Regions from separate parts of the Homo sapiens genome. Here regions 2 and 3 are each linked to region 1. The links come from fine-mapping of genetic effects on gene expression. A gene starts in region 1. Each other region holds a variant in brackets. All regions are shown on one strand. Distances are between the middles of the regions. Region 1 holds the start of FAIM2 (Fas apoptotic inhibitory molecule 2). Region 2 overlaps FAIM2 (Fas apoptotic inhibitory molecule 2). Region 3 overlaps LINC02395 (long intergenic non-protein coding RNA 2395).

Region 1 (2,757 bases):
AAAAAAAAAAAAGACTTTGATAATTTGTCTGCCTACCTGGGCCCTGCTTTCTCAGGGACTTTAGGTGGGTCCCTGGGCAGTGAGAGGGAAGCAGAAGGTAAGTGGCCACCCCCACCTGTCCCAGGTCTTAGTTTCTCGTCCCATCCTAGCAGGTTCAGATACTTCTTTTAGGCAGATTTGTGGGTGCTCGCTCTGGGGCAGCCCAGGACATTCTGGTAGGAGACTCCTCAGTTAATAATACCTCACATACTTCCAGCACTTCTTGGTCTTTTATGTGCTTTTACGGCCATAACCTGTGCGTCTGACAGTCAATCTAGGATGGACAGAGCTCTGTTCTAAGCCTCTTTTTCGTAGGAGCTGCAGCTCAGAGAGGTTAAGGGCCTTGCCAAGGCCACGCGGCCAGTGGGTGACTAAATTGGGACTTGATCCCAGCTCTTGAGATTGCAAACCCCATAGTGACACTGCAGCAGCTACAGAAAACGGGGCCTGATGATGGCTGGGTCCCAGTGACACGTCTGGGGAAGCGGGGAGAACGAGCTCTGGCATGGGAGGAATGGAAAAGGGGGGAAGATGGAGACGGGGTGATGGAAGCTAAGCGTGGAGGCAGGAAGAGAGCTCTGGCAGGGGTTGTAGAGGCTTTGAGACAGAACTAGCGGTGTCTCCAGAAAGACCCCGTGAAATGTCCCAGCAGGGCTGAAAGAAACAGAAGAGGTGTCCTCCCACCCCATGTCTCTGTGAACCAAGGCAGGGAGGGACCTACTGTGTGCATTTCACAGGCGAGAAAAAGGAGCAAGGATAGGTGGCTATTGGCTTGCCCCAGGCCCACAGGAGCGCAGGGCCCAGGGGCCCTGTTAGAAGCGGGCAGCACAGGCGAGACTTCCAGACCTTCCCCTCTACCAGGGATGATGAAATAGATGATGAGAGGGGAGGTGGAGATGGAGACAGAAATCAGGGCCGCATCCAAAGAGGGAGGAGGAAAAGGCAGAGGCGCAGCTGGAGCTGCAGAGAGGTGCAGAGACAGTGGAGATGAGGCCCTGATGCCCGGCTCTGGTTTCACGCGGGCAGCGTCAGCTGGTCGGTGTCACGGAGTTCCCGCGTCCTCCGCCCGCTCAGCCCCCGCGGACCCATCCACTGGGGTTGCTCCGCAGCGCGACTCTCTCTCATCCCGGGGGAGGGCTAAGGGCGGCGGTGGGGGGCGGGGTGGGGGGGAAGCGGCGGGAGGGGGCGGTGCGCCGCCGCCTTACCCCGGGCTCGCGAATCCGCAGCGTCCTCCGCAGCATCTTCCCAGGCCCGGCCCTCTCCTCCCCCCGCGCCGATGGTACGCGCCGGCTCGCCTGGCCCGGCTGCAGTGGATGTTGCTAGAACCCACGCGGAGGAAGGAAGAGACGCAGGCAGGCTGCGGTTACCCAAGCGGCCACCCGGGCCTCAGGGACCCCTTCCCCGAGAGACGGCACCATGACCCAGGGAAAGGTACCGGCATCTCCCCAGCCTGCACCATCCTCCATCCTCCGGCTCCCGGCTCCCTGTCATCCTCAGCAAGCCCTCTGGACCACGAAAGCATCCTCCCCTGGCCCTAGTTTGAAGGTCCTCCGTGGTCCTTGCTGAAGTCAGAGGACCGAAAGGCCGGTGTCAAGGAATGGACCGAGGCCTCTTCCTGCCCGCAGGCGCGCCTCTCCTCCCCTGTCACCCTGCCACCCCTGCTTTGGCATTACAGCATTACAAGGCTCCTCACAGATACCCAGGCCCCCCGTGAGGAGTCAGCCCGGGCGTCTGGTGTGACTGTATGTGTGTGCATGGGTATGTGTGTGCCAGGGTGAGCCCTGAGGGGCAGTGCCTATCGGGCAACCCCCTCTGGCCCAACCCTCCAGTCCCAAACCCAACCACTTTATGCTCATCTTTCCCACCCTCCACGGAAACAACCCCCACCCTACTCCCTGCCATTGTTCCACATCTGGGCGTCTTGGCTCCATCCCTGTGCTTGGGGCTTGCTATGACAACTCTGCATCAAGATGCTCTAATTGTTGTTTTGGTTTTGGCCAGGCATGGATGGGTCCGGATGAAGCATCTCTTCTCCAGTTTTAGGCCTGAATTGTAGGGGAGGGGCTGGGGCAGAGACTCGGCTGGCCTAGTAGGCTTATGTAACATCAATAGCCTGTGGAATTATACAACCACTAGGGCCTGGGGCTAAGGGGGAGGGTACTCGGGCCCTCTGTTTGGGTTGCTAAGGATTGGGCAGAGAAAACAGGGGAAGGACCTCCCCTACACTCCCCCTTCTTCTCTTTGAGAGGAGCTTCAGAGCCAATGACATCCTTCCCTGGACCCTCAGACCCTCCTCTCCCTGTATGCAAGCTCTTTGGGCCTCAAATGATGTCACTGGGTGATACCACCTCCCGCCATTGGTCACACCTCACTTGGGAGTGCCGTATGTGTGTCGGGGGCCTGGGCATTAGGGTCCAGGAGGCTCTGGGGGGCGGAGTGGCAGGGTGGAGGCTGAACTCGATTTAGGTGGACATGATCCTTCAGATCCGGGTGATGAGGGGGGCTGGGGAGTGGGAGGCAGTGGGAGGCCTGGGGAGTGTTCAGTTCCGTAAACATGGAGAACTCACCCCTTCTGCTGAGTCTCCTTCCACCTCCACCCTGCCTCCACCAGGCCCTTTAGTGGCGCTGTTCCCTTCCTGGTGTGAGGGGGACCTCTGCCTCCTCTGCCCCTTGTCCCCAGCTCACGCACAGGCTTGCTGGGGGATGGAGAAGACCGCT
Region 2 (2,757 bases), 30 kb after region 1:
ATAGATTTTTCACAACTTGCTTTTTTCTCACAGTAGCGTCTGTCACAGATGTTTCCACCTCAGCACTGCTGCCCAGAGTTTATTTAACCACCCCCGTGTTGGTAGAGTTTGGGTTGTTTCAGCATCTCACTGTTAGAACCAATGCTGTAAACAACAGCCTGGGGGTTGCCTCCACACGCCCTCACACTGGCATTTATGCAGGACAGACACAGTCCACGTGGCACTGTTTATGCTGATACAACACATTGCAACCCCAGCTTTTTGTATTCAGTGCCTGCCTGCGGGTGGCTCTGAGCTGGCCTTTCCATGGCATGCACTGCCCAGAGCCCCTCAGCGTCACCTCTGGGGCCACATTCAGGGAGGACAACGGACATAAGCCTGGGCCCCAGATATGGCAGGGTCAGGCCAAATGTGTGGCTGGGGTCCCCGGCCAGGTTTAGCACTGGCCAGTAAAGTGAGGCGGGGAAGTTTGCCTTTGGCACCTGTGCCCTCTGCACATGCTCCCTCCCTCCCTGCAAGCCCACTCCTCCCCTATCTCCACCAGCATAGGAGACGGCACTCGATAAGCAGCCATCAGCAAGTCACTCAGCTCTCAGACTCCTTTCCTCATGTAAGACCATGAGGACGCCCACCTCCCAGGGCAAATGGGGAGAGGGAGATGAGATCAAGTGTTGGTCTGGGGAAGGACTCTTCAGATGTAAGTTAATAGCGTCCTTGTCCCAGGGGGCCTCCTGCCCCATCCCATGTGCTCCTCCTGCAGAGTCTCCTGTTCAGCTGAACACTAACTCAAGTACCTGCCCTCCTTTTAGGGGTTTGCAGTCAATTCGGTTGCTAGCTCTCAGCCAAGATCCTAGCTACCCACTAAGATGTTAACTATAACCAAGATACCTGCTCTCAACCAAGACATTAGTTAACAATGCTTTCCATCTCCAAGGAGATAGCAGCAGATGACTTTCCCCTGTAAATCAATGCACTGCCATGCAGAATCTCTGATCATGTCTTTTGCCCTCATTAGACTGTCAGTTCTATGAGGGCAAGTTCTCTGGAATATAGTAGGTGCTCAGCAAATATTGTTGGGAATAAATCGATGAAAAGACTTTGTTTGACTCACAGGCATCAGGTGGCAGTGATGGGTCATACTGGTCAGTGGGGTTGAAATTTGAAGCAGGCCATCCCAGAGAACACCACATAGATAAGCATCTGTGGCTATGGACCAAGGGCTGGGGCAGAAATCATTTCATTCCTCTTCTCTCCAAGAGAAAAGCCAGCTGGCTGCTCTAGGGGGTCTCCTGCGTGGGTGCTTCTCAGAAGGGCCACCCCCAGAGCTGGACAGATCCAAGCCTTCCAAGTTAAGAGACTCCATTTCATTAGCTCACCCAGGGGTGACCAGGCTCT[G/A]GGAAACCAACCAAGCAAGCTACTGATTGAACAGCCAGATCAGCAGTTTATGAACTGATGCTGGCAGCTGTGACTGCCAAGTGGCCCAAAGCATTTGCACTGGGCCTTCTGCTTGCTCATTCTCTCTGCAGAAGGAAAATGTGCTTGGGAATCCAAATCAAACACAGAAGGAGCAGAGCGGAATGGAGAGAAATCATACTCAAAAATACAAATAGTGGATGCCACATACACTGTCATAAATCTACCCTCAAAACCACACCGTGGTGTGGGCATTGCTACTATCCCACTTTGTAGATGAGGACACTGAGGTCAAGTGGATGACTTGGCTACTGAGCAATGGAGCCGGGTCTCAAACCCAGGCATTTCAACTCCTGTTCCTGTCTGGAGTGCCCTTCCCTCAGTGCCACTGAGCTCAGGAGACTGACGCACCCCGTGCAGGGCTCCTCTCAGCCCTGGCCATGGCTCCCCATTTTCGCTGTGTTAAGGCCACTCAGCTCCCCAAGGAACAGTGCTGCCTCCCTGATGAGATGCAAGAGACACCTGAGTCTCATCAGTAGCACGTGCATGTCCTCAAGAGGGCACCTCTCCTTCTGCAGATAATAACAATGAAACCACATTAATATAATAGCAAGCATTCATTAAGTGCTTACTATGTGTCAGGCACCACGCCAGGCCCCTTGCATGCATTATCTCATTCTCACAACAACCTCAGGAGGCAGGCACGCTCATCTCCCTTTTACACATAGGGACTCACAGGCCTAGAGAGATTAAATGCTCTGCCCAGGTCCTACAGCTAATGAGTGGTAGAGCAGAGCCTGCAGTCCAAGTGGATCTGACTTTCAAGCCTGTGCTCATAATTGCCCCCACCTCCTCACCTTTGACGGTGGCCCTGCCTCAATGTCCCATGTGCTGGAATTGCTCCCTGTTGGAGCCCTGGCCTCTTGGGCCTGCCGGGGGGAGCATTGCACCAGGGCTGGGATTCGACTAGGATTCTACAGGGCTGCGTCTATAGCAACTCTAAAGTCTGGGTCTTGGGAGACAAGGAGTCCATGGCGGAGGTGAAGGAAAGGGAACTGGGCATGACCCCTGTCTACCAAGCAGAGTGCAAGCTGCAAGGGCAAGCCCCAATCCCTTCCTCCTCTATCCACTTCTCCCATAGTTCCTGCCTCACCGAGTTCCCCACTCTTCACACAACACCAGTCAGGCCTCCCAGGCTTCCCTAGGCCTTCCCAGCTAGCAAACTCCTACTTAAGCCTCAGGTGAAATGCCACCTCTCCTGGGTCACCTTCCTCTGGCCCAATTAGTAGCTCCTTCCTTCATAGTCCTAATTGTGCATTTCCTGGGTTTTCTTGTAATGACCTA
Region 3 (2,757 bases), 21 kb before region 1:
TCTTTGCCGGTCCTGCCCTCTCCCACCATCCACCACCCCTCACCCCCCAGCTCCCCTGTCCAAGGCCCAGGGGCCTGGGAACCAACCAGACCTTAGCCCTGGCAGGGGAGGGCAAGTCCCAAGAGAAGCTACTGATTGGGGGACAGCAGGCAGAGGACACAGTCCCCTGAAATATGCTGAGAAAGCCAGCCCTGTGCCAGCACCACTAGAGTCTAATCACCTCCAAGGCCCTAGACCCATCCCAAGAGAGGAAGGGCTGGGTAGGACCGGAAAGCGCCACTCCGAAGGTGGGATGTGACTGTAGGAACACACACATGCACACACACACACACACATGCACGCATATGCACACATGCACGATACACACACACATGCACGCATGCACACACATGCACACACACATACACACACATGCACGCATATACACACACACATGCACACATGCACGCACACACGCATACACACACACATGCATGCACACATCATCCCAGGATGCATACACACAAAAGGGGGCAAAATTACTTGGGCTTTGCAGTGAGACAGACCTCCGTTCAAATCCCTGCTCCACCACTTAATCTGTATGATCTTGGCAAGGTATTTAAATTCCAGAGCGTCCTCGAGAATGAACTTTGCAGGATTTTTGTGACAACTCAGTGAATCCTAACACAGTGCCTGGGACACAGTAGGAGGCCACTTTAGGATATTCTGTGTCCCCTCCTGCTCCCTCTTTCTCTGTCCTAGATGCTTGAGTCTTTGATCAGGCCATAGCATGGTGCAATAGAAAGAGATCTTGGCCCTGGGGTCAGACCACCCTGCATTTGAATCCCACCCATGCAGCTTCATTACCTCACATCCATAGAGCACTCGGCATGGCGCCGGGCCCACAGTGGGCACACAACAAGTGGTGTAAATACTACTGCTAGGTTCATCTTCAATGAGCCCAGGAGCTTACTGAGGCCAGCATCCAGGTAGGACCAGGTAGGACAGGGTGTTCAGGCCTGGAGAGAAGAAGGCGTGAGTCTGAGGGATTCACTAACAAAGGCTTAAGACGATCATGCAGTAATGATCCGATGGCCCCACTGGGAGTCTTGACACTGACTCATCCTCATGTTCGATTCAGTTCTAGGCAGCCTTCACAGAGCCATTTCCTGGCCTACACCCCTGTCATTCCCAGCCAGTCAATAAGCC[A/G]CCATCAATAAGGCTGCCAGATAAAATCTAGGACACACAGTTACATTTGAATTTCAGATAAATATTGAGTTTTTTTTGATATAAATGTGTCCCAAATATTGCATAGGGCATACTTATGCTAAGAAATTCTTATCTGAAATTCAAATTTAACTGTGCGTCCTATATTTTTATTTGCTAAAGATGGCACCCCTAGCCACTTGATCACCCACCACTTATAATAGTAATGACTTACATTTGTGAACACTTAAGCGACCATTACATCAGCTGCGTGCCGCCCTTTGCAGTCAAGGTCACGTCCACTAGCTGGTACATCCCTCCTTTGAAGAGGTGGCACATGACATTGTGGCGAGGGGACGTGCAGGCACTGCTGAGCCTCCTCAGCTCACTGAGGAGGCCCGGGGGGGCACCGGGCTCACTGGGAGTGGATGGGAGCCCTTAGTCAGCAATATCATTATTATTACCTGCCTTTAACAAGCAAAAAAACTGCAGTGCATTCATTTAACAAACGTGTACTAAGCCTGGTGCTTTTCAAGGCCTGAGAGGAGAGGTTAACTGATGTGCACAGTCCCCCGGCTGGTGGATGATGGCCAGCTGAACTCTGCAATCCTAGGCGGAGGCGGTCAAATGATTCTCCACCCTCTCCATCATGCCAATGCTGGAGAATCCCCAGCAATACATTGCAAGTGTGTCTGAATCTTCTGTGTATGTGTTCGTCTCCCTCCCCAGCCGGCTCCACTCCTCTTACCTCACTCCAGGCTGGGAGCCCCAGTGGCTAGAGACAGTCTTATTAACCTTAGGATTCCACTGAGGAGCTCAGAGTGGGTGCCCAGTAATTACAGGGAGTTATTGACGGGGGTCCCCTCTTTACCAAGCCACTGCTTCCTTGGGACCAGGGGCATGACACTGGTTACATACTTCCCACGGCCCTGCTCTTCTTCCTTCAGGTCACAAATTCCGAGGGCCTCTGGAAGGAGTCAAGAAAGGAAGGGCAGATACTTGGGTGGGACAGAAGAGGAGAGGTTGAAGACAGGATTAAGGCGGTAAAATACAAAACACATACTTACACAAATAACATTGTTTTGGCATCAGCAGTGCTGGCATTTACTGTGATGGGTGGGTCCCTAAAATTAAAGTTGATTGGGGAAGGGGTCAGGGCAGGGACAGGTTCAGAGTCAAGATACTCAGGGCAGTGCTGAATGAGTCTTAGAACACTAGCACGTAGGAGCAGCATTCCACAGCTGGCCCCTGCCCCTCACCCCACCCCAGCCCTTGGCCACTCCGCTCCAGCCACGCTGGCCACCCTGCCTGCGTGCTCCCTGTCAGGGCCTTTGCTCTTGCTGTTGACTGCTTGGAATGCTCTTCCCCCAAATGTCACTCAGTTGGCTCCCTTGCTTTTTCCAGTCTCCTTCTCAACAAGGCCAGCCCTGCCCATCCTGCTGAGTCCTGGAACTGCCACATCCCTGCCCTCCTCACCACCTTGCCTAGCACCGCTTTCCCCTGTCCACAGTATCTCTAACTTCTAGAACTTTTTGTTATTTTGCTCACTGATGTATCCTAACATTGCAGAAT

Evidence for each region.
Region 2: its variant is fine-mapped to the expression of FAIM2 in thyroid (GTEx, PIP above 0.99). The same link has a PIP of 0.9 or more in lung and tibial artery.
Region 3: its variant is fine-mapped to the expression of FAIM2 in subcutaneous fat (FUSION, PIP 0.93).

The regions. Positions count from the first base shown.
Region 1 is chr12:49,902,491-49,905,247 of GRCh38, reverse strand. FAIM2 (Fas apoptotic inhibitory molecule 2) reads left to right here and starts at 1,348. Exons shown (of 12, transcript NM_012306.4): 1 at 1,348-1,470. The coding sequence starts at 1,456.
Region 2 is chr12:49,872,191-49,874,947 of GRCh38, reverse strand. All of the region lies in intron 11 of FAIM2 (Fas apoptotic inhibitory molecule 2), which reads left to right. Among named protein-coding and RNA genes, the nearest start is that of FAIM2, 30 kb to the left of the region's middle. The variant G/A (reference allele first, on the strand shown) is at 1,396.
Region 3 is chr12:49,923,177-49,925,933 of GRCh38, reverse strand. LINC02395 (long intergenic non-protein coding RNA 2395) reads right to left here. Exons shown (of 6, transcript NR_110048.1): 2 at 2,253-2,757; 3 at 1,421-2,152; 4 at 847-998; 5 at 546-672. Among named protein-coding and RNA genes, the nearest start is that of LINC02395, 13 kb to the right of the region's middle. The variant A/G (reference allele first, on the strand shown) is at 1,189.